Regions from separate parts of the Homo sapiens genome. Here all the other regions are linked to region 3. The links come from fine-mapping of genetic effects on gene expression. A gene starts in region 3. Each other region holds a variant in brackets. All regions are shown on one strand. Distances are from middle to middle.

Region 1 (8,000 bases), 51 kb after region 3:
CCATCTCTACTAAAAATACAAAAATTAGCTGGGCATGGTGGTACATGCCTGTATTACCAGCTACTTGGGAGGCTGAGGCAGGAGAATCACTTGAACCCGGGAGGTGGAGGTTGCAGTGAGCCGATATCGTGCCACTGCACTCCAGCTTGGGCAAGAGTGAGACTTCATCTCAGAGAAAAAAAAAAAAAAAAAAAAAGAGACAGGGTCTCACTCTGTCACCCAGGCTGGAGGCAGTGATGTAATCATAGCTCACTGCAGCCTCAAACTCCTGGGTTCAAACGATCTTTTCGTATCAGCCTCCCAAGTAGCTGGGACTAGAAGTGTGTGCCACCATGTCTGGCAAATTTTTAAACATTTTTTGTAGAGATAGGGTCTCACTATGTTGCCCAGGCCGGTCTCAAACTCCTGGGCTGAAGTGATCCTCCCTCTCCAGCCTCCTGGGTAGCTGGGATTATAGGTGTAACCACACTCAGTGGGAATCTAGGCTCTTTAGAATAAACTATTATTATTATTAATAATAATGATAATGATGAAGTTAATGTTTATCAAGGTCTGTCTTTGTGCCAAGTTCTAGTCTAAGCACTTTGCAAGCAATAGGTCATTTGCTTCTCAAAACAAGCCTGTGAGATGGGTGTAATTGTTAGCCCCATTTAACAGATGAGGACACAGGCTTGGAGAAATAGAATGACCTGCCCATTGTCACACAGTGGTAAATGGCAGAGCCAGAACTTGAGCCCAGCTCTGCCTTTCTCTCCTCTCTGCCATGTGGCTTCCTAAAGGTGGGAGTCTGGGTTGTCTGGACTGTGAGGCCAAATAATTATACATGTAGACAAGGCCTCAGTAACTACCCAGGTCTAAAAGCATTTCTGACTTTTAGAGTGGGGAATGAGAGGCTCCGGGAGAAAAAAATGTCTTGTCCATGGTCATACTGCAAAGCAGGTTTAGAAAGCGAGTACTCCGAGATCCAGTCCAGAACCAAAAATCATGATTATCTATTAGGGATGTGTGATTAGGTGTTTGTGTGAGAGAGAAAGAGAGATGCAGGCAGACATGTGTACACCTTTGTACACACGTACACACGCACGCATGGCTGGTGGTGGACTTGTCCCAGAGACACTGCCTGGACCTGGAGTCTCGTAGGCGCCCTCTTTGGCCCACATGAGACAGCCGATCTTGTCACTTTATTACCACGCTTCATTTTGGACCCCGAATTGCGCCCAGGAAGTCCCGCAGATGTGTGGCAGTTTTTGTTCCTGGAAAAGGTGTTCATGCTGAAGATCTTCCCCAGTTCCAAGACAGGGCTTTTGGTGGCATGGGGTTATTCCCCGGACTTCAGTCTCCTCCACCACAGACTCAAGGAACCCACAGGGGGTTTTCCAGGAAAGTCTCAGGTCCCAGGAACCTCACGGGAACACAGGTGCCACTGCTTAAGGTCATGGCTTTGAAGAGGAAGGGCCACCGTGTGCCTGGACAAGTTCTAGTGTGTGAGGAATGTCAGCCCTGTGACTCTGCTGTCACACCTTGGCCATGTGACAAGGCTGTGTGAGTGTGTGTGTGTGAGACAGAGAGAGAGACTGTGGGCAGCCAGGGAGCTCAGGAACCCGTGGGAGGTTTTTTTCTTTTCTTTTTTCTTTTTTTTTCTTTTTGAGACGGAGTCTCGCTCCGTCGCCCAGGCTGGAGTGCAGTGGCGCAATCTCGGCTCACTGCAGCCTCCGCCTCCTGGGTTCACACCATTCTCCTGCCTCAGCCTCCTGAGTAGCTGGGACTACAGGCACCCGCCACCACGCCCAGCTAATTTTTTTGTATTTTACTAGAGACGGGGTTTCACTGTGTTAGCCAGGATGGTCTTGATCTCCTGACCTCGTTATCCACCCACCTCGGCCTCCCAAAGTGCTGGGATTACAGGCGTGAGCCACTGCGCCCGGCCGAGTTTTTTTTTTTTTGAGGCAGAGTCTCACTCTGTCGCCAGGCTGGAGTGCAGTGGCGCAATCTCGGCTCACTGCTACCTCCACCTCTCGGGTTCAAGCGATTCTCCTGCCTCAGCCTCCTGAGTAGCTGGGATTACGGCACCTACCACCACGCCCAGCTAATATTTTGTATTTTAGTAGAGATGGGATTTCACCACGTTGGCCAGGATGGTCTCAATCTCCTGACCTCATGATCCGCCCGCCTCCGCCTCCCAAAATGCTGGGTTTACAGGCGTGAGCCACCGCGCGCGGCCCTGGCTGGGAGGTTTTAACAGGATAGGAGGGGAATCAACTTTCCCTGAGGGCCGGCTCTGGTGCGAGGTGTTTTACAAATGTGTACTCATTCGTATCTTCCCAATAACTGTGATCCCCATTTTACAGGCAACTCAACTGAGGTTAGAGAGGCCACATATGTGCCTGAGGTCACACAGCAAGTAAATGGCAGAGCCAGGATTAGACGCTCGGTCTGTGTGACTGCACAGGAATCAGGATGGAATTGCTGAGAACACGAGCTTTGCTTCAGCCCTGAGTCCTGGCTGTGACCCGGATGCTTTTGACCTTGGGCATGCTATGTAGCCGCTCGAAGCCTCAGTGTCCTCATCTATAAAATGCAGGCCTAGAGTAACCATGCAGGTGGCGAGGGTTAAACGAGATGGTTAGGCCCCATATGGCCTGGCAGTATTATTTAATGTTACTATAACCTTTTCCTGCCCTGCCCAACCCTGAGCTCACCCCATACTGCCTGGCTGTCCCCCACAGACCATTACTGGGACTTCCACCCCCACCACGTGCACAGCGAGTTCGAGAGCTTCGCCGAGAACAACTTCACGGAGCTCCAGAGCGTGCAGCCCCCGCAGCTGCAGCAGCTCTACCGCCACATGGAGCTGGAGCAGATGCACGTCCTCGATACCCCCATGGTGCCACCCCATCCCAGTCTTGGCCACCAGGTGCATGCCACCGCCTGCCCCGTCCCCCAGGAGACTGCCAGGCCTGTGGTGGGGCCCGGGAGCTTCACAGGAAGCTGACACAGGCTCTTACCCAACTCAGCTTCCTGCCCCACAGTGCCAACGGCGGCTGGAGCTCCAACGGCTGCCGCCTGACCCCCCAAGTGACCTCATGACCCCACACCCCTTATCTCATCTCACCCCGAGTATGGACAGACCCCAGATAATTCTCGCACCCTCACCAAGCCTCCCCATCCCAACGCCTTGTTGTGGGCCCTCCTGGGCCTCACTGTCTGCCACCCCCATTCACTAGCCCTCATGGATCCCACACCAAGTCACTGAACACCTCTACTGACCCTGCCTCTCCCCAGTGACCCTCCCTACTGACCCTAACCCGGATCAGTGACCTCTGCTGACCTCTACCACCCCTACTGACCTCCAGGGTCCCTCCACTCACTCATCATCCCACCTATGAAACCCCCTTCCAGACCCAACGCACCGGTCCCTAGCATGCCCTCTTCTGACCCCAGCCTAATGCGGGTCCACACAGCACCGCTGCAGGGAGGAGAACAAGGCACCACTTCCCCGGTGCCCACAGTCCTAAACCAGGAGGCCCAGCTGGGAGGGCTGGGTGGGCTGGATGTCAGCACCCCTCGCCCCACAGCCTGCACCCTATGTGCAGCACCTCAACTGGCCCCCCTTTTCCCTGGTCTTCTTCCTCCAGTCTCCTGTGCCTGCCATTGTCCCCTGCCCTCTGCACTCCTTCTCTCCCCAGCTGACCTCCCTCCCAGCCCCCCTGAGCTGTAAGCTGGC[C/T]CTTCCTGACTCTGATCTCCTTCCCCCACCGTCCAGGTCTCCTACCTGCCCCGGATGTGCCTCCAGTACCCATCCCTGTCCCCAGCCCAGCCCAGCTCAGATGAGGAGGAGGGCGAGCGGCAGAGCCCCCCACTGGAGGTGTCTGACGGCGAGGCGGATGGCCTGGAGCCCGGGCCTGGGCTCCTGCCTGGGGAGACAGGTGGGGCACCTGGCCCTCCACCCTGGCCCCGACCCTGGCCGTGTCTGTGCCCTGCCCCCACCCAGCCAGGCCAACTGACCCAGCAGCCACGCCACCGAGTCGCGTGTGTGTGTGTGTGCATGTTTGCCAGTGTGTGTGTTTTGTGGGGCTGTCTGTGGCTGTCTCTGTGTGTGTGTATCTGCTGTGTAGTGCATACGGGCATCTCCATGAAGTGTGCCAGGTGTGTGTGTCTCTCTGTGCCATGAGTGTGTGTACATCTGGGTGTGTGTGAGCAAGTGTGCAGAGGGTGCGTGTGCACAGGTACGGGCAGGTGCATGTGTGCGAGTGGCTGTGTGAGTGGGTGTGTGAGAAGGTGAATGTGAGAGCTGGTGTGGCTGAGAGTGGGTGTGGCCATGTTTGTGTGTCTGTCAACACATGAATGTATTTCAGTGCGTGTGAGCAGCTGTGCACGTATGATGTCAGTGGGTGTCAGCAGTGTGTGGGTGTGCCTGTGTGAGCAGGGATGTGAGCATGGTATATGTGAGTGGCTGTAAGCAGGCATGTGTGAGTGATATGTGTGAGTGGGGGTGTGACAGCAGGTGTGTGAGCAAGTGTATATGTGTGAATGTGTATGTAAGCAGGGATGTGTGTGATATAAGTGTGTGTGAATGGGCATAGGTGTGTGTCAGTGGATGTGTGAGTGGGTGTGAACATGTTTGAGGGTGTATGTAAGCAGGTGTGTGTGAGCAGGAAGGTGTGAGCTGGGGTGTGTGAGCATGTATGTGTATATGTGAGCAGGTCTGTGCATGTATGTGAGTGGATATGTGTTTTAACATGTGTAAGCATGTGTGTGTTCCCATGTGTGAGCAGGTGTGTGTGGGGGGTGAGGACGTGCTTAAGCACCTGCGTGTGTGAGCAGGTGTGCATGTGTGTGAACAGGTATGTGTATGTGTGAAAGCAGGTGTGTGAATGAGTGTGTGAGCATGAATGGGTGTGAGTGGGCCGGGCGTGGTGGCTCACGCCTGTATCCCAGCACTTTGGGAGGCTGAGGCAGGCGGATCACCTGAGGTCAGGTGTTCGAGACCAGCCTGGCCAACATGGCGAAACCCCGTCTCCACTAAAAATACAAAAATTAGTCAGGCGTGGTGGTGAACGCCTGTAATCCCAGCTACTTGGAAGGCTGAGACAGGAGAATTGCTTGAACCCGGGAGGTGGAGGTTGCAGTGAGCCGAGATCGTGCCATTGCACTCCAGCCTGGGCAACAAGAGCAACTCCATCTCAAAAACAAGAGAATGGGTGTGATGTGTGAGTGTGAGAGCAGGTGTGTGTGAGCATGCATGAGTGTGAGCTGCTGTGAGTGGATGTGAGAGCAGAATGTGTGTGAGCATTTGAGTGTGCAAGTAGGTGTCTGAGTGGTTGTGTGTGAACAGGCGTGTAAGCATGCAAGTGGATATGCATGAGCAGAATGTATGTGCATGCGTGAGCAGGTGTGAGGTGCAAGTGTAAGTGGTGTGAAATATGAGTGAGCAGGTGTCAATGAGGTGTGAAAGAGCTGGTGTGAGCGTGTGAGTGATAAGTGAGCAGCTGTGAGGTGTGAGCATGTATGTGAGCAGGTATGTGTGATGTGTGAGCATATGTGTGAGCATGTGTGTGTGCAGATATGTGTGGGCAGGTGTGTGTGAGTGGGTGTGAGATGTGAGCATGTGTGTGAGGTATGAGGTGTGAGCATGTGTGAGGTGTGAGCATGTGAGTGGGTGTGAATGTGTGAGGTGTTAGCATGTGTGAAGTGTTAGCATGTGTGTGAGCATGAGTTTGTAAGCATAAGTGTGTGTGAGACTTGGTGTGAGGTGTGTGAGGAAGTGTGTGTATGGATAGGTGAGCATGTGTGTGAGCAGACGTGAGCATGTGTGAGTGGGTGTGTGCGTGAGTGAATGGTGTGAGGTGTGTGAGCACAAGTGTGTGAGCAGGGGCGTGTGTGTGTAGCTGAGTAATGTGAGATGTGTGTGAGCAGGTGTGTGCGTGTGGGGCTGAGTAACGTGAGATGTGTGTAAGCAGGTGTGTGCGTGCAAGTGTGTGTGAGGTGTGGGTAGGTGCGATCATATGTGAGTGGATATGTGTGAGTGAATGGTGTGGTGTAAGCATGTGTGTGTGAGCAGGGGCATGTGTGTGCAAGGGTGAGCAATGTAAGGTGTGAGGGTGAGCAGTGTAAGATGTGTAAGCAGGTGTGTTTGTGCAAGCATGTGTAAGCAAGTATAAGCAGGTGTGATTATGAGACCTGGTGTGAGGTGTATGAGCAGGTGTGTGAACATGAGTGTGTGAACCTGGTGTGAGGTGTGTGTGAGCAGGTGTGAGTGGGCATATGAGTGTGAGAAGGTGCATTGGGTGTGACCGTGTGTGGGGGCAGTAAGTGGGTCTGAGTGTGTGTGCATGTGTGTGAGTGGGTGCATTGGGTGGGTGTGAGTGTGCATGTGAGTGGGTGTGAATGAGGTGTGAGCATGAGTGGGTGTGACCAGGTGTGTGTGAGTGGGTTGTGAATGTGTAAGCAGATGCAGTGTGGGTTTGAACATGTGGGTGGGTGCAAGCATGTGAGTGGGTGTGTCGTGTGGGTGCCAGTGTGTGGGGGCATGTTAGTGAATGAGTGTGTGAGCATGTGTGTGAGTGTGAGCTGGTGCATTGTGTGGGTGTGTGAGAAAGTGACAGTGTGTGAGGGCAGATGTGGGTGTGAATGTGCAAGTGGGTGGGTGTGGGTGCAATCTGGCGTTTGGGTGCATTGCACAAGCATGTGTGTGAGCATGTGGGTGTGAGTCTGTGAGCACGTGCATTGTGTGTGCATGTGTGTGACAGCATGTGTGTGATCAGATACATTGTACGTGTGAGCGTGTGTGGGTGTGAGCATGAGTGAGTGGTTGCATTGTGTTTAAGCATGAGTGTGAGTGGGTGTGAGAAGGTGCGTTGTGTGAGCACGTGTGTGAGTGGGTGTGGGCGTGATGTGTGAGCATGTGTAAGGAGGTGTGGGTGCGTTATGTGGATGTGAGCATGTGTGTGTACTTGGTGCACTGTGTGGGTGCGAGTGTGTGCGCGTGGGGGGGGTGAGTGCGTGGGTGTGAGTGGGTGTGTGTGAACGCCTGTGTGTGCGCAAGCATGTGTGTGTGTGTGAGTGTGGGTGCGTTGTGTATGCACGCCCGGCGCGGGCTGGGGCAGCCGTTCCCCTGCCCTTCCCGGCCACCCCGTCCCCGGGCCCCTGTGCGTACGCAAGGCGGTGGGGGCGGCTCCCATGTGGGCCCCGGGCCCCCTCCCACCGGGCCCTCCCCCCCGCAGGCAGCAAGAAGAAGATCCGCCTGTACCAGTTCCTGTTGGACCTGCTCCGCAGCGGCGACATGAAGGACAGCATCTGGTGGGTGGACAAGGACAAGGGCACCTTCCAGTTCTCGTCCAAGCACAAGGAGGCGCTGGCGCACCGCTGGGGCATCCAGAAGGGCAACCGCAAGAAGATGACCTACCAGAAGATGGCGCGCGCGCTGCGCAACTACGGCAAGACGGGCGAGGTCAAGAAGGTGAAGAAGAAGCTCACCTACCAGTTCAGCGGCGAAGTGCTGGGCCGCGGGGGCCTGGCCGAGCGGCGCCACCCGCCCCACTGAGCCCGCAGCCCCCGCCGGGCCCCGCCAGGCCTCCCCGCTGGCCATAGCATTAAGCCCTCGCCCGGCCCGGACACAGGGAGGACGCTCCCGGGGCCCAGAGGCAGGACTGTGGCGGGCCGGGCCTCGCCTCACCCGCCCCCTCCCCCCACTCCAGGCCCCCTCCACATCCCGCTTCGCCTCCCTCCAGGACTCCACCCCGGCTCCCGGACGCCAGCTGGGCGTCAGACCCCACCGGGGCAACCTTGCAGAGGACGACCCGGGGTACTGCCTTGGGAGTCTCAAGTCCGTATGTAAATCAGATCTCCCCTCTCACCCCTCCCACCCATTAACCTCCTCCCAAAAAACAAGTAAAGTTATTCTCAATCCATCCTCTTGCAGCACAGAGTCTCTTTTAAAATTTGTTGTGTATCTCTTTTGGCCCCTGTGTGCTGCGACGTCTCTTTTTGTCATTTGTCCATCG
Region 2 (8,000 bases), 26 kb before region 3:
TGTCTGTTTTAACTACAAAGCCCATGTTCCAAATTTAATAATGGTATCTAGTGCTTGCTTTGGCAGCCCATATTCTGAAATTGGAACAATACAGAGAAGATTAGCATGGCCTAAAAACCAAAACCAAGGCCGGGTGCGGTGGCTCACACCTGCATTTTGGGAGGCCGAGGTGGGCAGATCACCTGAGATCAGCCTGACCAACATGGTGAAACTCTGTCTCTACTAAAAATACAAAAATTAGCCAGGTGTGGTAGTGCACGCCTGTAATCCCAGCTGCTTGGGAGGCTGAGGCAGGAGAATCACTTGAACCCGGGAGGTGGAGGTTGCCATGAACCAAGATTGTGCCACTGTACTCCAGCCTGGGTGACAGAGCAAGACTCCATCTAAAAAAAAAAAAAAAAAAATCGTCATAATCTTATTAAAACCTTAAAATCTTGAAAACAGGTTCACCACTTCTCAAAGCCTTCCAGATGTGCATTTCTACGAGATCCTGTGCACAGTCCAACCAAAATGCCAAAATTTGGTTGGATTATAGCCACTCTGGTTTACCTGGGTATCAGGCTGATCAGAAATGCTGATGAGCTATTGTGTGTATATTTAATTAATAAAAACAGGAAAGCAGATTAATTATTATTTTTTTTTGAGACGGAGTTTCACTATTAGAGCCCAGGCTGGAGTGCAGTGGTGCGATTTCGGCTTACTGCAACCTCCGCCTCCTGGGTTCAAGCGATTCTCCTGCCTCAGTCTCCTGAGTAGCAGGGATTACAGGCACTCACCACCACCCCCGGCTAATTTTTGTATTTTTAGTAGAGATGGGGTTTCGCCATGTTGGCCAGGCTGGTCTCGAACTCCTGGCCTCAGGTGATCCACCTGCCTCGGCCTCCCCAAGTGCTGGGATTACAGGCATGAGCCACGGCGCCCTGCCGCAAATTATTATGGAGTCTGTGCACCAGGTTTGGTCATAAAATCTGTCAAAAACATGGGGTCTCCAGGCAGTTCTGGGGGGTGAAGTCTTCTGATCTCACCCACCGCCTCATTCTGCATGAAAGGAAGCAAGGTCCCAGAGAGGGCAGGACATTTTTCCAAGGTCCATCAGCAAGACAGGGAAGTGGCTGAGACCGGAGCCTACCTGCACTGACTTTGTTCTCATCCCCCACTGGCGCTCTCCACTCCTGCGGGCCCCAGCTGAGCCAGCTCAAGCTGCACTGTCTGAGCGAGAGCATTTACCGCAGCAAAGGGCTGCAGCGGGAACTGCGGGCGCACGTTGTGAGGTTCCACGAGTGCGTGGAGGAGACGGAGCTCTACTGCGGCCTGTGCGGCGAGTCCATAGGCGAGAAGAACAGCCGGCTGCAGGCCCTACCTTGCTCCCACATCTTCCACCTCAGGTGGGGGCTCCTGGGGGGGTGGACAGGGGTGGGCAGGATCTCTTCGGGGCACTCTAGGGCCCAGCTGGCTTAATCACAGCAATAATACTAATAGCAAACACTTAACCTTGGCCAGGCGTGGTGCCTCACGTCTGTCTCGCAAGCACTTTGGGAGGCCGAGGCGGGCTGATCACTTGAGCCCCGGGGTTCAAGATCATCTTGGCCAACATGGTGAAACCCCGTCTCTACTAAAAATACAAAAATTACCCAGGCATGGTGGTGGGAGCCTGTAATCCCAACTACTCGGGAGGCTGAGGCAGGAGAATCACTTGAACCCGGGAGGCAGAGGCTGCAGTGAGCTGAGATCTGTGGCCATTCTTTTCATAATCCCCAAAGAGGAGTCAGAGAGGCCCCTCAAAGGTCATTAGGTCGGACGTCCAGGGCCAGACCTGCCGTGGGTCTGGTTCCATCCCATCCTCTCAACTCCCAGCCCCTGCTCTGCCCTGGAGGTCCCTGGGGCAGAGGAGGAGAGGGGCAAGCCGGGTGCAGTGGGAGCCTGGGGGGACCGTTCCCTTCCCTTCCACTGCTGCTGAACAGCCACCAGGATGCATCCCAGCCCCTGCAGAGGGCAGGCAAGGAAGGAAGAGAGGGCCCGGAGGGAAGGACAGGCCTCAGGGGAGTGGACAGGGCCCTTTGCCTCCCCAGGTGCCTGCAGAACAACGGGACCCGGAGCTGTCCCAACTGCCGCCGCTCATCCATGAAGCCTGGCTTTGTATGACTCCTGGCAGCAGGCGTGGGCTTCCTCCTCGCCACTCCTGCTCTTTCTCCACTGCACGCCAGAGGCCCATTTACTCCTGGGGCAGCTGCCAGGTCGTCCTCACCATAGCCAAGGCCTTGGGGCCTGCCCAGGGCTGCTCCCCTGGGCCCAGCTCCCCTCCCTGCCTCTTTGTACTTTGCTCTTTATAGAAAAATAAACTGTTTGTACCTGGTCCCAGGGATTCCGACTTTCCATGCCCAAGGTCTGAGGAGTGGGGAGAGTGGGAGTGAGGCGCCCCACAGGAGCTTCCTCAGACGCAAGCGTTTCCTCTGCACATATGTACAAGGGCCTCCAGCAGCCCCTCCAGGAACTTGGGATGCCACAGAGACACGATCCCTGCAGTGAGAAGCTGACGTGCAGTGGGTGGGAGGGTATATGATAAACAGGAAACACACAGTTTGGAAAGCCTGGTGGGAAGCTGCTATAGACGAATCGTGTCCCCCCAGATTCCCATGTTGAAGGCTTAGTCCGTTTGGGCTGTTGTAACGAAACAGACTGGGTGGCTTGTAAACAACAGGAATTGATATGTCACAGTTCTGGAGGCTGGGAAGTCCAAGATCAAGGCACCTGCAGATTGGGTGTCTGGTGAGGGCGCACATTCTTGCTCACAGATTGAGTTTTCTTGCTGTGTTCTTGCATGGTGGAAGGGACAAGGAAGTTCTCTGCATTCCTTTTTTTTTTTTCTTTTTGAGACAGGGTCTCACTCTGTCGCCCAGGCTGGAGTGCAGTGGTGAGATCTCAGCTCACTGCAACCTCCGCCTCCCGGGTTCAAGCAGTTCTCCTGCCTCAGCCTCCTGAGTAGCTGGGATTACAGACACGCATCAACATGCCTGGCTAATTTTTCTATTTTTAGTAGAGACAGGGTTTCTCCAAGTTGGCCAGGCTGGTCTCTAACTCCTGACCTCAAAAGATCCACCTGTCTTGGCCTCCCAAAGTGCTGGGATTACAGGCGAGAACAACCATGCCAGGCACAGTCCCTTAATAAGGGCACTAATCCCATATATAAGGGCTCCACCCTCATGACCTAATTGCCTCCCAAAGGCCTCACCTGCCTAAT[G/ATG]ACAGTCCTAGCAGGCTCATATAATGTGATAAGTTCTTTGTAACAATAAAGAGTAGAGCCTGGTTGTGTGCAGTGGTTCCTGCTTGTAATTCCAGCACTTTGGGAGGCCGAGGTGGGTGGGTCACTTGAACCCAGGAGTTCAAGACCAGCCTGTACAACATGGCAAAACCCTGTCTCTAGAAAAAAAAAAATACAAAAATTAGTCAGCATGGTGGCACACACCTGTAGTCCCAGCTACTCGGGAGGATGAAGCAGGAGAATCTCTTGAACCTGGGAGGCAGAGGTTGCAGTGAGCCAAGATCATACTACTGCACTTCAGCCTGGGGGACAGAGCAATACTCTGTCTCAAAAAAAAAAAAATAAGAGTAGAGGCCTGGCGCAGTGGCTCACACCTGTAATCCCAGCACTCTGGGAGGCAGAGGGGAGGTTGGATCACCTGAGGTCAGGAGTTCGAGACCAGCCTGACCAACATGGTGAAACCCCGTCTCTACTAAAAATACAAACATTAGCTGGGCGCGGTGGTGGGCGCCTGTAATCCCAGCTCCTCCGGAGGCTGAAGCAGGAGAATCGCTTGATCCTGGGAGGTGGCAGTTGTGGTGGGCTGAGATTGTGCCATTGCACTCCAGCCTGGGCAACAGAGCGAGACTCCATCTCAAAAAAGAAAAAAGAGTAGAGCCTGGTCCCTCTTCCTCATGTTCACCCCCTTCCCTAAACCAGTTCTAAAACCATTAAGTGGGACAGAGCAAGACAAGCATCTGTGTGGAGGGGTGACCTGGTGTGAGGCACTGGAATCTAAGCAGGCTGAAGAGTGTCCACACAGGGCAAGGCCTGGGGTGAGAGGTCAGAACCTGTGTGGAGAGAGGACAGAATCCACACATGGGGTTGGGTTGTTTTGAAGTGTCAGAGACCAAGCCCAAGGAGGGGCAGCCTGGCGTGGGCCATTGGGACCTCACCAGAGTAAGGAGGCATCCAAATTGGTGAAGGTTTGTGTGAGGCATCAGAGCTTGAGTAGAGCGAATAGGCCATGCACATGATTTGGGGCATCCTGGCAGGGGGCATTAGGTCAAGGATGGAGTGAAGAGGGTTCTGTGTGTGGAAGGGAGTGGCAGTGGAACACTGGGTACACAGAGGGGGTTGATCAAACAAGTAAGTAGGTCAGGTGCGGTGGCTCACAGTCTATAATCCCAGCACTCTGGGAAGCCGAGGCAAGTGGATCACTTGAGGTCAGGAGTTCGAAAGCAGCCTGGCCAACATGGTGAAACCCCATCTCTACTAAAAATACAAAAAAAAATTAGCCTGGCGTGGTGGCAGGCGCCTGTAGTCCCAGCTACTCAGGAGGCTGAGGCAGGAGAATGGCGTGAACCAAGGAAGCAGAGCTTGCAGTGAGCCGAAATCCTGCCACTGCACTCCAGCCTGGGTGACAGAGCAAGACTCTGTCTCAAAAAAAAAAAAAAAAAAAAATTAGCTGGGCGTGGTGGTGCACACTTGTAATCCCAGCTACTTGGAGGCTGAGGCAGGAGAATCCCTTGAGCCCAGGAGGTGGAGGTTGCAGTGAGCTGAGAGCACACCACTGCACTCCAGCCTGGGCAACAAGAGTGAGACTCCATCTCAAAAAAAAAAAAAAAAAAAGTAGGTAGATTAAGGACAGTGGAAGGCAGCTTTCTCACTTTTTTTTTTTTTTAGATGGAGTCTTGCTTTGTCACCCAAGCTGGAGTGCAATGCCTCCATCTTGGCTCACTGCAACCTCTGCCTCCTGGGTTGAAGCAATTCTCCTGCCTCAGCCTCCTGAGTAACTGGGACTACAGGCATGTGCCACCATGCCGGCTAATTTTTTGCATTTTTAGTAGAGACAGGTTTTCACTGTGTTAGCCAGGATGGTCTCGATCTCCTGACCCCATGATCCGCCTGCCTCAGCCTCCCAAAGTGCTGAGATTACAGGTGTGAGCCACCGTGCCTGGCCGCTTTCTCACTATTGATGGAGAGAATTACAAATATGGAAAGGGAGAGAACCAGAGTGGACCCTGTGGCGCTGAATTAGAATTGTAAGAATCAGTGTGAACTCATGGATTTCAAAATATACGGGTAGATCTAGAAATAAATATAGTTATAAATGTGCGTGTCCACCAGCCTGGGCGCAGTGATATGCCAACAGCAATGAGCTCACCCAGCAGCCAGGGCTTGGCTTTGAAACACCATGTTTCACAAAAAGGAACCAAGGCTCTTTGGTCAAGGGCCTGATTCCAGGGCTGGGTCATAGAGAGTACAAGATGAGCCAGAGCTATTTTGTGCCAGAAAGCAAGGGAAGTTGAAAGAATAATGAGGAAAACTCAAAGGCCACAGGAGCCAGCTTGGATGGGCTCCCAGCAGCCACTGATAATGAGTAACAGTGAATGTCGCAGCTCAGGCTGCCATAACAAGGCACCTTAGGATGAGAAGCTTAAACAACTAAAACTTACAGTTCTAGAGACAGGACATCCAAGATCGAGGTGCCAGAAAATTCAAGAAGCCTCTCCTCCTGACTTGCCCTTCTCTCTGTGTTCTTACAAGACTTTCCCCCCATGCTGCTGTGGTGACAGCAAGATTGAGCCCTCTCTCTCTCTCTTTTTATGTATTTATTTATTTTTGAGACAGAGTCTCGCTCTGTTGCCCAGGCTAGAGTGCAGTGGCATGGTCTTGGCTCACTGCCTCAGCCTCCCAAGTAGCCAGGATTACAGGTATGTGCCACTATGCCTGCCTAATTTTTGTATTTTTAGTAGAGATAGGGTTTCACCATGTTGGTCAGGCTGGTCATGAAGTCCTGGACTCAAGCAATCCACCTGCCTCAGCCTCCCAAAATGCTGGGATTACAGGCACGTGTCACCACACCCGGCTAATTTTTGTATTTTTAGTAGAGACAGAATTTGGCCATGTTGGCCAGGCTGGTCTCGAACACCTGACCTCAGGTGATCTGCCCCCCACCCCCTAGTCTCTTTCCCTCCCTCCCTCTGTCTTCCTCTTCCTATAAAGGCACTAATTGTCTGGGTGTGGTGGCTCACGCCTGTAACTCCAGTAGTTTGGGAGGCGGAGGCAGGCAAATCACTTGAGGTCAGGAGTTCGAGACCAGCCTGGGCAACACGGCAAAACCCTGTCTCTACTAAAAATACAAAAATTAGCCACATGTGGTGGTGCACATCTGTAATCCCAACTACTTGGGAGGCTGAGGTGGGAGTATCACTTAAGCCCAGGAGGCAGAGGCTGCAAAGAGCTGAGATGGCACCACTGCACTCCAGCCTGGGCCAGAGTGAGACCCTGTGAAAAAAAAAAAACGAAACAGGCTGGGCCTCATTGAGAAGGTGGCATGTGAGTGAAACCTTAAAGGAGGTGAGAGATTGAACTAAGCAGATTTCCTGGAAAGAGCATTCTCCTAGAGAACAGAATCCTAAGACAGGAGCTTGCCTGATGTGCTCAGGAGCAGCAGGGAGGCCTGTAAGTGAGCAGGAGGGAAGGAGGAGGAGTGGAGGCCAGGAGGAGAGTGTGGTGTGAACACATGCAGGACTTGGGAAGGACTTTGGCTCCTGCTCTGGCGAGTCGGGCACCTGCTGAGGATTTTGAGCAGAGGAGTGACGTGATCTGACTTGGTTTTACAAGAATTCCTCTGGTTGCTATGTGGAGAACAGATTCCATACAAGACAGCTGGCCTGAATGTTTCAAAAATGCCAAGGCCATGAAAGACCAAAATGATTGAGAGATTGTTCTGGAATAAAGAAGATTAAAGAGATGTGACAACTAAATGGATCATGTGACCCTTGACTTGATGCTGGATTTTTAAAATTATTTTATTTTATTTATTTATTTATTTATTTCTTAGATGGAGTCTTGCTCTGTTGCCCAGGCTGGAGTGCAGTGGCGCGATATCGGCTCACTGCAACCTCCACTTTCCAGGTTCAAGCAATTCTCCTGCCTCAGCCTCCCAAGTAGCTGGGATTACAGGCGCCCACCACAGCGCCCAGCTAATTTTTTGTATTTTTAGTAGAGACAGGGTTTCGCCATGTTGGCCAGGCTGGTCTATGAACTCCTGACCTCAGGTGATCCACCCGCCTCGGCCTCCCAAAGTGCTGGGATTACAGGCGTGAGCCACCGCACCTGGCCAACGATACTGGATTTTTTTTTTAAAGGCTATAAGGGATGTTTAGGGAATAATTTAAGACATTTTTATATAGACTATATATTGGATATTATTGCATCAATATTAAATTCCCTGGGTATGACTATATATATAGATAGATAGATTTTTTTTTTTTTTTTTTTTTTTTGGAGACAGAGTCTCCCTCTGTCACCTAGGCTGGAGTGCAGTGGCGCAATCTTGACTCACTGCTACCTCCACCTCCCAGGCTCAAGTGATTCTCCTGCCTCAGCCTCCTGAGTAGCTGGGATTACAGGCATGCACCACCATGCCCAGCTAATTTTTGTATTTTTAGTAGAGACAGGGTTTCTCCATGTTGGCCAGACTGGTCTCGGATACCAACCTCAAGTGATCCGCCTGCTTTGGCCTCCCAAAATTCTGGGACTACAGGCGTGAGCCACCACCCCCAGCTGACAAGGTATTATACTACCAATGTATCATAGCTATGTATGAAAATGTCTGTTTTTAGGAGACACGGGCTGAAGTATTTACAGGTGAAGTGTCATGAAGTCTGGAAGTTATTTTGATTTTTTTTTTTATGACGGAGTCTTGCTGTGTTGCCCAGGCTGGAGTGCAGTGGCCTGATCTCAGCTCACTGCA
Region 3 (8,000 bases):
AGGTTGAGGTAGCCGCTGACCTGGGAAGGAGGGAAGGCAGGAGGCAGGGCTGAGTGGGGCTGGCCACTCAGGGCAGTACGGCTGCAGGGGCCCTGAGCAGGCCACTCACTTTGATGCTCCGGACCACGGCACCGAGGCCGGGCTCTGCAGCCGGCTGGGCCAGACAGTGGCCTCCATTGAGCGCGGCGGCAGCAGCAGTGGGGTCTTTGTTGGGGGCCTAGGGCCAGGAGAAGGAGGGAGAGGTGACATTAGATGCCCCCCACTCAGCCAGGGCAGACAGAAGGGGAGAGAGATGGAGAAAGAGAGACGGGGGCTGGGTGCAGTGGCTCATGCCTGTAATCCCAGCACTTTGGGAGCCCAAGGCAGATGGATCACCTGAGGTCAGGAGTTCGAGACCAGCCTGGCCAACATGGTGAAACCCCACCTCTACTAAAAATACAAAAATTAGCTGGGCGTGGTCCCAGCTACTTGGGAGGCTGAGGCAGAAGAATTGCTTGAACCTGGGAGGTGAAAGCTGTAGTGAGCCGAGATCGCGCCACTGCACTCCAGCCTGGGTGACAGAGCGAGACTCTTCTCAAAAAAATAATAATAATAATTGGGAGGCTGAGGTGGGTGGATCAAGAAGTCAAGAGATCGAGACCATCCTGGACAACATGGTGAAACCCCGTCTCCACTAAAAATACAAAAGTTAGCTGGGCATGGTGGCGCGCACCTGTGGTCCCAGCTACTCGGGAGGCTGAGGCAGGAGAATCGCTTGAACCCGGGAGGCAGAGGTTGCCGTGAGCCACGATCGTGCCACTGCACTTCAGCCTGGGTGACAGAGCGAGACTCCGTCTCAAAAAAAAAAAAAAAAAAAAAGATAGGAACCCCTGTTTTTTCTAGCTAGAATCCTCTGCTGCTATATCAGTTGGGTGCCCCCAAACTCAACAAACCCTCCCCAACTGCTGTCACCATCAGGCTACCAGAACAAGCTACATCAGGGGCTAATGGTGTCAGTCCCAAAGAAGGTGGCCCAACCTCCCGCAGCTCCCAGGAGAGGGCCAGGAGACCCCTCTTTTCAGGGCTCAACTCAGACCCTGGGCCTCCAGGCCCCGGGCACTACCACAGAACAGAGGCTGATATATCCAGGCCCTTGAGTGTGGGGCCCACCTGGCTGGTCCCCTCCTCCTTGCTGTCCAGGAACATCTTCTCCAACGCCAGGAAGGTCAGGATGCCAGCAATGACCCACAGCCCCAGCTGTTGCTGCTGCTGCAGGCTCTGCCCCTCACCACCTGCAGGGGGCGGCAATGCCAGGCCAGGCCAGGCCAAGCCAAGCCAGGGCCATAGGAGGGGGCCATTTGGAATGGGATCTCATCCAGGGCACCAGGGCAGTGACAAGGGTGGGTTGGGCAGCTGGGGCCCAGAACTCCCACTGGGACCAGGGCCCAGAGACCAGGACAATGACCCTCCCTCCCTCCCAGGCAAGCTCCTGCCAGAAACCCAGAATCCCTCTCCTGGTCATCCTGGCCATCCCTGGGCGTGGGCACCAGGCCCCCACTCCTGGCACTGTCTTGCCCCTGGCGTGTGGCCTCACTTACCAGGGCTGGCGCTGCACGTGTAGGCCCAGGCTTCGGGCAGCAGATGCAGAAACACATTGCCCAAGAGTCCCCCCAGGGCGAAGCTGAGCAGCTGCTTCAGGCGCCAGGCCCCAGCTACAAGGGAGAGATGCGGGGTCTGGGGGCTGACTGGCTGGAGCTCCTGGCCTGACCTTCATCCCACCCCACTCACTGGGCTCTTTCTGGGCCTGCAAGGCTGGATATGGGTGGCTGCTCTTCCTGGGTCCCCCACCTCACAGCAGAAACACCACACCCTGCCAAATGCCCACAGGGCCACCACCATGTCATGGTGAAGAGCTGACAGGTCCCAGCTCCCAACCCACTAGCTGGTGACCTTGGCAGATGACTTTGGAGACTCGGTTTCTCCATCTGTAAATTGGGTCTTATGGGAATTATTATTTTATCTTGTTTTGTTTTGAGATGGAGTCTCGCTCTGTTGCCCAGGCTGGAGTGCAGTGGCGTGATCTTGGTTCACTGCAACCTCCATCTCCCAGGTTCAAGCGACTCTCCTGCCTCAGCCTCCTGAGTAGCTGGGATTACAGGTGTGTGCCACCACATCCGGCTAATTTTTGTATTTTTGGTAGAGACGGGGTTTCATCATGTTGGCCAGGCTGGTCTCGAACTCCTGACCTCAGGTGATCTGCCCACCTCAGCCTCCCAAACTGCTGAGATTACAGCTGTGAGCCTTTTATGGGCTCTTATGGGAATTAAATGACAATATGTACAGCAAGTGCTCATTACGTGGGAATTTTTCTCTTCTCAGCTGCTGTCACTCTCAGAAAAGTGGCAGAGATTTGGGGACTTGCAGCATCCAGGGTTGGAAGTCGCCTGCCTGAAAGCCATGTCCAACCCTTTGGCTTGATAGAGAAACTGAGGCCTAGAGGACAGAGGCAGCTGGGTTTGGGGTGGGATCCCAGGGGAAACTGCTATTTCCTGGCTGGGTGACCTTGGACTGGTCAAAGAACCTCTCTGTGCCTGTGCATCCCCACTTGTAAAATGGAACTAATAATCCAGGTGCTCCCTGCACTGACCCCGCAGGGCTGCTCTGAGGGTTGAGCACAGGCCTGACCATGGCCCAAGCAGGGCTCTATTCACAGCTGTGGCACCGCCCTCAGCCCAGTGCCTGGCACAGAGCTGCTGGGTAACCATCTGGTAAGTGAATGGTTCCTGAGCATCCAGCTGGCAGCACCAGCCCCTGGGATGCTCGTTTCTAACAGATTCCCAGGGCCTTGGTCCACCCCTCTTAGGTGGGGGATAGGCACGTGCATTCTTAGCAGCTCCCTAGAGCTCTCCTGCGTGTTTTGTTACAACATGTTATTTGTGAACGGGCAGTACATGCTCATGGTACAAAAGGGTAGTCAGGACAAAGCTCCCACCCGTGCCCACATCCCCATCTCCTAGACCCCCTCCCCAGGGGCAGGCCCTGCTACCAGGTGCTCATAGCTTCCTGGGGAAGCCAGAGCCAGCCGCCCCTGGCTAGATAGCTCCTACAGGACCAAGGGGAGAAGTTCTATTCTATCCTCTCCCTCCATCTCAGACACTCTGTGACCTGGGGTCTCCTAAGAAGAGCAGCAGCATGCTTCCCACACCCTGGCCAGCCCTGGGCGCCACCGGAGAGTCACCTACCTTCTGAGCGCAGCATGGTCCCCATCTCTAGGGGAATGACAAGCAACGGGAAGACCCCACTGAGCCCCACCATGAGGGAACCCAGGAGGGAGCAGATCCAGGTGTCCAGCCGCTCTCCGCTCAGCAGAGCCCCCCAGGACTCGCTTTCCTTGTTGTCCAGGCGACAGGCCGTCGCAGTCCCCCGGCTCCGGAGGGCCGGCTGGGAACCCCCAGCCCTTTCCAAGAGCTCCAGGGCAAGGGCAGTGAGGAAGAGGAGCCTTGGGCCCGCCATGCCACAGCCAGGGCAGGGACATCCAGGCATGCCACGTACTGAAAAACACAAAAGGCCACCTATATGAGCTACAGCCTTGGCCGCACACCTGCTTAGGAAACGTGGCGCCTCCCTCCTCCCCGCAAGGGACCCTGGCATCCACCCTCCTGCTGTCCTTGCCAGAGCGTCTGAGCATCCAAATGCTGGGTGCACAGCAATGGGGCCCTGTGTCTCCACACCCTACTCCTGAGCACTGCGTATTTTTTCCTTCTGAGCAGCTCCAGACTGTGTCAGCACCTCCGCCTGAGGCTAAACTTTCCCTAATGACAGGGTGAGGCGCTGGCTGGCTCTCCTCAGCCACCGGCGGCACGGCCCGGCCCAGCTGGGTGTCTCTGGCTGCCAGGGGAGGCCCTGCCGCCCGCGACACCCCAGAGACTGAGGCACCCCTTCTAAGGGGATGGGGTGGATTCAGAGAGACATACGTGGGGAAACTGAGCAGATGAGCCAGGGCAAGACCATCCACGCTTCTTCCTAGGACATGAGACCAATGTCCCCAGGGCACTGAGGGCAACAGGAGATGGGGCTGATGAGGAAGGAGCCTTTAGCCAGGGGATGCCTCTCTCTTGTATAGCGCAGGCTTTAGAGCCCCCACGGTGAATTCTATGCTGCACTTTGAGCTGTCTAACTCTGGGCAAATCTCTGAAGCCCCCCCTCTGAGCCTCAGTGCCCTCATCTGCAGGACAGGGATCAATATCACCTGCCTCAGCTGTGAGGACGAGATAAGCCTGAAAGTGCAGGTGGATGTACCCGGCATGAGGAGGCGCAGAGGCCCTGCCTGTGCCAGGGAAGGCCTGGGGCTCCCTGCAGCAGGAATGTGCCCAGCCGGCCGATCACAGGATGTGGACGTGAGTCAACCAAGCGAGAAGTTCCATCTGGAAACTCGGGCATGAGGTTTAAATGTGGTCTGCTCTGCCTCAGGCTGGCTGTGACCTTGAGCTGGTGATGTCCCTGCCTCAGTTTCCTCACCTTCTGATGGAGATGGGAGGGGAAGAAAGCAGCTGCCTCTGGGTGGTGGCAGAGATGCCCATGTCTAGGACCTCCAGGCCTTAACTAATCAGGGGCACTGATGAAGCCAGCGGGGCTCCACTGGGGACCACAGGCAAGACTGGGCCAGGACGAGGCGGTCACGCAGAGGTGAGGGGACCACAGGCTAGCGGGAGGGAATACACGGAGAGTCCAAGGGGAGAGGAAAGTAGAGAGTGAGAGAGCTAGAGAGAGGCGGGTGGGACGCGGAGAGGACAGCGAGGGAGGGATGGGGCGTGGGGCGCGGAGCGATGGGGGAGAGGAGGCCGAAGCGGGCGAGCCTGACTCCCGGGTCCTGGGAGCCGGCCCAGGTCTGATGAGGACCAGTCGGACGGGGCGAGGGATCGGCCGGGTCCATCACGCCCGGGGCGCGGGCCCCGAGGGTCCTGCTGGCACTCACCGTGCGGCGGCGGCGGCGGCGATCCGGGCGGCCCCAGCCATCCAGCTGCGGTGCCGCGCCCCGCCCAGGCTCTGCCCCGCCCGGCCGCCCGGCCGCCCGGCCCCCGGCCCGGGGCCGCCCCCGGCGCGCGGCCACGTCACAAGGGGCCTGTCCGGAACCCGAGGCGCCGCGTGCCGCGGGGTCGGGGGGAGTGGCGGCGGGAGGGCGCTTCCGCCTCGCGGCGGTGGGGGACCCGGGTAGAGGGCGCACTTCCGTTTGGGCAGGGCTGCGGGCCGGAGGGGAGGGTCGGTCGGAAGTGAGAGAGCCACACGCACCGCGCTCAGCCAGGCTGGGCAGGGACGGAAGCGGCGGCTCTGCGGGGACCGCGATCGACCAGGCTGCGGGGCTTGCGGATCTGGCCGCCGCTTCCCGTCCAGGGCCGCAGTCTGCCCGTGGCCGCACGGGGGCGCGCCCGGCCGCCAGACCACGCCGCCCAGGTCGGGCTGGGAGGACTACTGTGCGCTCCTGCTCTGAGTCAGCCCGGCCTGGCTCCTCCATGAGCAAGGGAAAGGGGAAGTGCCTGCCGCAGGGAGGGGCCTGGCCCCGGGAACCTCAGAAGAGGGAATTTTATTCTTACTCATCGAATTATTTTTATGCTTTGGTTTTTCACTGGGAACCTCAGGCCACTGTCTCCAGGGCTTGTAACCCTTTGGGGTCCAATGCATGGTGGCTGGACCCTGCTGATGGGAACTCCAAACCTGGGAGGCGAGGGCTCTGTGCTTCCCTCACCTGGAGGAAGCTAGACCTGACCTCTTTGGTTAGACTAAGGCAGCAAACACTGGATAGCAGTTCTTATAACCGCAATTTACTGACCACCTACTATGTGCTATTCACTTTACTCGCACTATCTCACTGAATCCTCATATTATCCCATTGTGGTGGGTACTGTTAGCCCAGGGTCACACAGTGGCACAGATGGCAGAGCCAGGATTCAAACCTGGGTGTCCTGAAGCCAGAGTATGTGATACCACTTCTCACGTCTAGGTCCTGAACAGCAGTGGGAGTCTGGCTTGGCGTTTCGAGTTTGTATTCTTCTCTGGAAATCAGCCAGTACAGGAGAAGATTCAGGAAGGGGCATGTGGGTACTCACTTGGGCAGAGATAGCGACTGAGTACAGGTCTCTTAAGTCTCTGACCCTCATCAGCCTCCCATGGCAGCTCCAACCATTTACTCTGTCACTTTCCCCTCTGCTGGGGCTCTTGAGAGCACACTCAGCTCTCAGGGCTGCCTCTGGTGCCTGTCCCACTTCATGTTGCACTGTTGGCCTTCCTTAGACCGCCAACTTCTCCCTGGTGGCCCAGCTTGTCTTCTGAAGCTTTCTGTCCATCTCACCCCACCGGGCCCATACAACTGCCAGGACGTTCTGTTCCCTCCCTGAGTTCCAAAATGGAATCCCTGGGTTAGTTTCTTGGCAAAGAAAAGCTACTCAGGGATCCTGCCCTAGGACTTCTAAAATGCCCCCCTCCCTGTATGCAAAAGCGCTCCATCTTATGCAAAGCACTTCACAATATGCAAATGATTTCACAATAACACAGTCAGCATTCCTGCCTCTGGAGGCTGAGCGCTCCTGGCCACCCAACAAGGGGATGGGCAAGACCCAGCCAGAAACGTTACTTGGTGCCAATGCACTACCCTTTCCTCCCACCTGGCCTGGAATTCCCATCGGATACCTAAGGCCCGGTGGCTCACATCTGTAATCCCAGCACTTTGGGAGGCCTAGGAAGGAAGATCTTTTGAGCCCAGGAGTTCCAGACCAGCCTGGGTAACAAACTGAGAACTGGTCTCTACAAAAAAATTTAAAATTAGTCAGGTGTAATGGTGCGCACCTGTAGCCCCAGCTACTCAGGAGGCTGAGGTGGAAGGATTGCTTGAACCCGGGAGGTCAAGGCTGCAGTGAGCCCTGATCGTGCCACTGCACTCCAGTCTGGGTAACAGAGCGAGACCCTGTCTCAAAAATAAAAAAATAAAAAAAATTACAAATTAATAAAATTGCAGGGGTTTCCAGGTGTGTGAGAAAAGTGAGATGCAGAAATATTTATTTAATATGATCCACTATTTTTATTTTTTAAGAGACTATTTTAAAATAATGACAAAAAGAAACCTTGTATATGTGTATGTGATTAAAGGTATCAGTATATATAAGTCTATGTATAATGAATACATAAAAAACATAGATAACACATTAAAGTGATATTATGGATTCTATGGTGGGAGGAACTAATGTGAATAGGGAAGGAAAAAATGTTAAAGGAAAACAACACATTAAAAGATGTGTATGGCCATATATGGCTGGGCATGGTGGCTTATGCCTGTAATCCCAGCACTTTGGGAGGCCAAGGTGGGCAGATCACCTGCGGTCGGGAGTTCAAGACCAGCCTGACCAACATGGAGAAACCCCCTCTACTAAAAATACAAGATCAGCCAGGTGTGGTGGCGCATGCCTGTAATCCCAGCTACTCGGGAGGCTGAGGCAGGAGAATCGCTTGAACCTGGGAGGTAGAGGTTGCAGTGAGCCGAGATCGCGCCATTGCACTCCAGCCTGGGCAACAAGAGCGAAACTCCATCTCAAAATAAATAAATAAAAGGTGTATATGATCACATGTATGCAATGTGTAAAATTGTATACATATATCAAATCTCATCTCAGATATATGAAAATCTCACTATATAAAATCTCTTTCTCTTTCTCTTTTTTTTTTTTTTTTTTTTGAGACAGGGTCTCACTCTGTCACCCAGACTGGAGTATAGTGGCATGATCTCGGTTCACTGCAACCTCCGCCTCCCAGGCTCAAGTAATTCTCCAGCCTCAGCCTCCCAAGTAGCTGGAATTATAGGCATGGGCCACTACTTCCCGGCCAATTTTTGTAGTAGAGACAGGGTTTCACCATGTTGGCCAGGCTGGTCTTGAACTCCTTACCTCAAATGATCCACCCGCCTCAGCCTCCCAAAGTGCTGGGATTATAGGCGTGAGCCACTGCACCTAGCCTCTGTCTTTCTCTCTCTCTCT

Alleles and levels. Positions count from the first base shown, and alleles are read on the strand shown. Sizes are in standard deviations (SD) of each study's normalised expression. Not every link is listed here.
For the expression in whole blood of the gene that starts at base 4,335 in region 3, allele C in region 1 goes with a lower level than allele T (small effect, 0.23 SD a copy in Lepik 2017).

Evidence for each region.
Region 1: its variant is fine-mapped to the expression of SLC39A13-AS1 in whole blood (Lepik 2017, PIP 0.95).
Region 2: its variant is fine-mapped to the expression of SLC39A13-AS1 in whole blood (INTERVAL, PIP above 0.99).

What each region holds. Positions count from the first base shown.
Region 1 is chr11:47,354,767-47,362,766 of GRCh38, reverse strand. SPI1 (Spi-1 proto-oncogene) reads left to right here. Exons shown (of 5, transcript NM_003120.3): 3 at 2,727-2,914; 4 at 3,761-3,923; 5 at 7,221-7,907. The coding sequence ends at 7,540. Among named protein-coding and RNA genes, the nearest start is that of MYBPC3, 6.1 kb to the right of the region's middle. The variant C/T (reference allele first, on the strand shown) is at 3,725.
Region 2 is chr11:47,432,117-47,440,116 of GRCh38, reverse strand. It overlaps RAPSN (receptor associated protein of the synapse), which reads left to right. Exons shown (of 8, transcript NM_005055.5): 7 at 1,186-1,385; 8 at 2,070-2,353. The coding sequence ends at 2,142. It overlaps LOC124902673 (a long non-coding RNA gene), which reads right to left and starts at 2,493. Exons shown (of 2, transcript XR_007062669.1): 1 at 2,350-2,493. It also overlaps the pseudogene LOC124902820. The variant G/ATG (reference allele first, on the strand shown) is at 3,239.
Region 3 is chr11:47,405,617-47,413,616 of GRCh38, reverse strand. It overlaps SLC39A13-AS1 (SLC39A13 antisense RNA 1), which reads left to right and starts at 4,335. Exons shown (of 4, transcript NR_182308.1): 1 at 4,335-4,665. It overlaps SLC39A13 (solute carrier family 39 member 13), which reads right to left and starts at 5,027. Exons shown (of 10, transcript NM_001128225.3): 1 at 4,955-5,027; 2 at 3,222-3,530; 3 at 1,578-1,691; 4 at 1,150-1,271; 5 at 110-217; 6 at 1-20. The coding sequence starts at 3,522. RefSeq lists enhancers at 2,903-3,767, 3,768-4,634, 4,923-5,745 and a silencer at 4,725-5,514.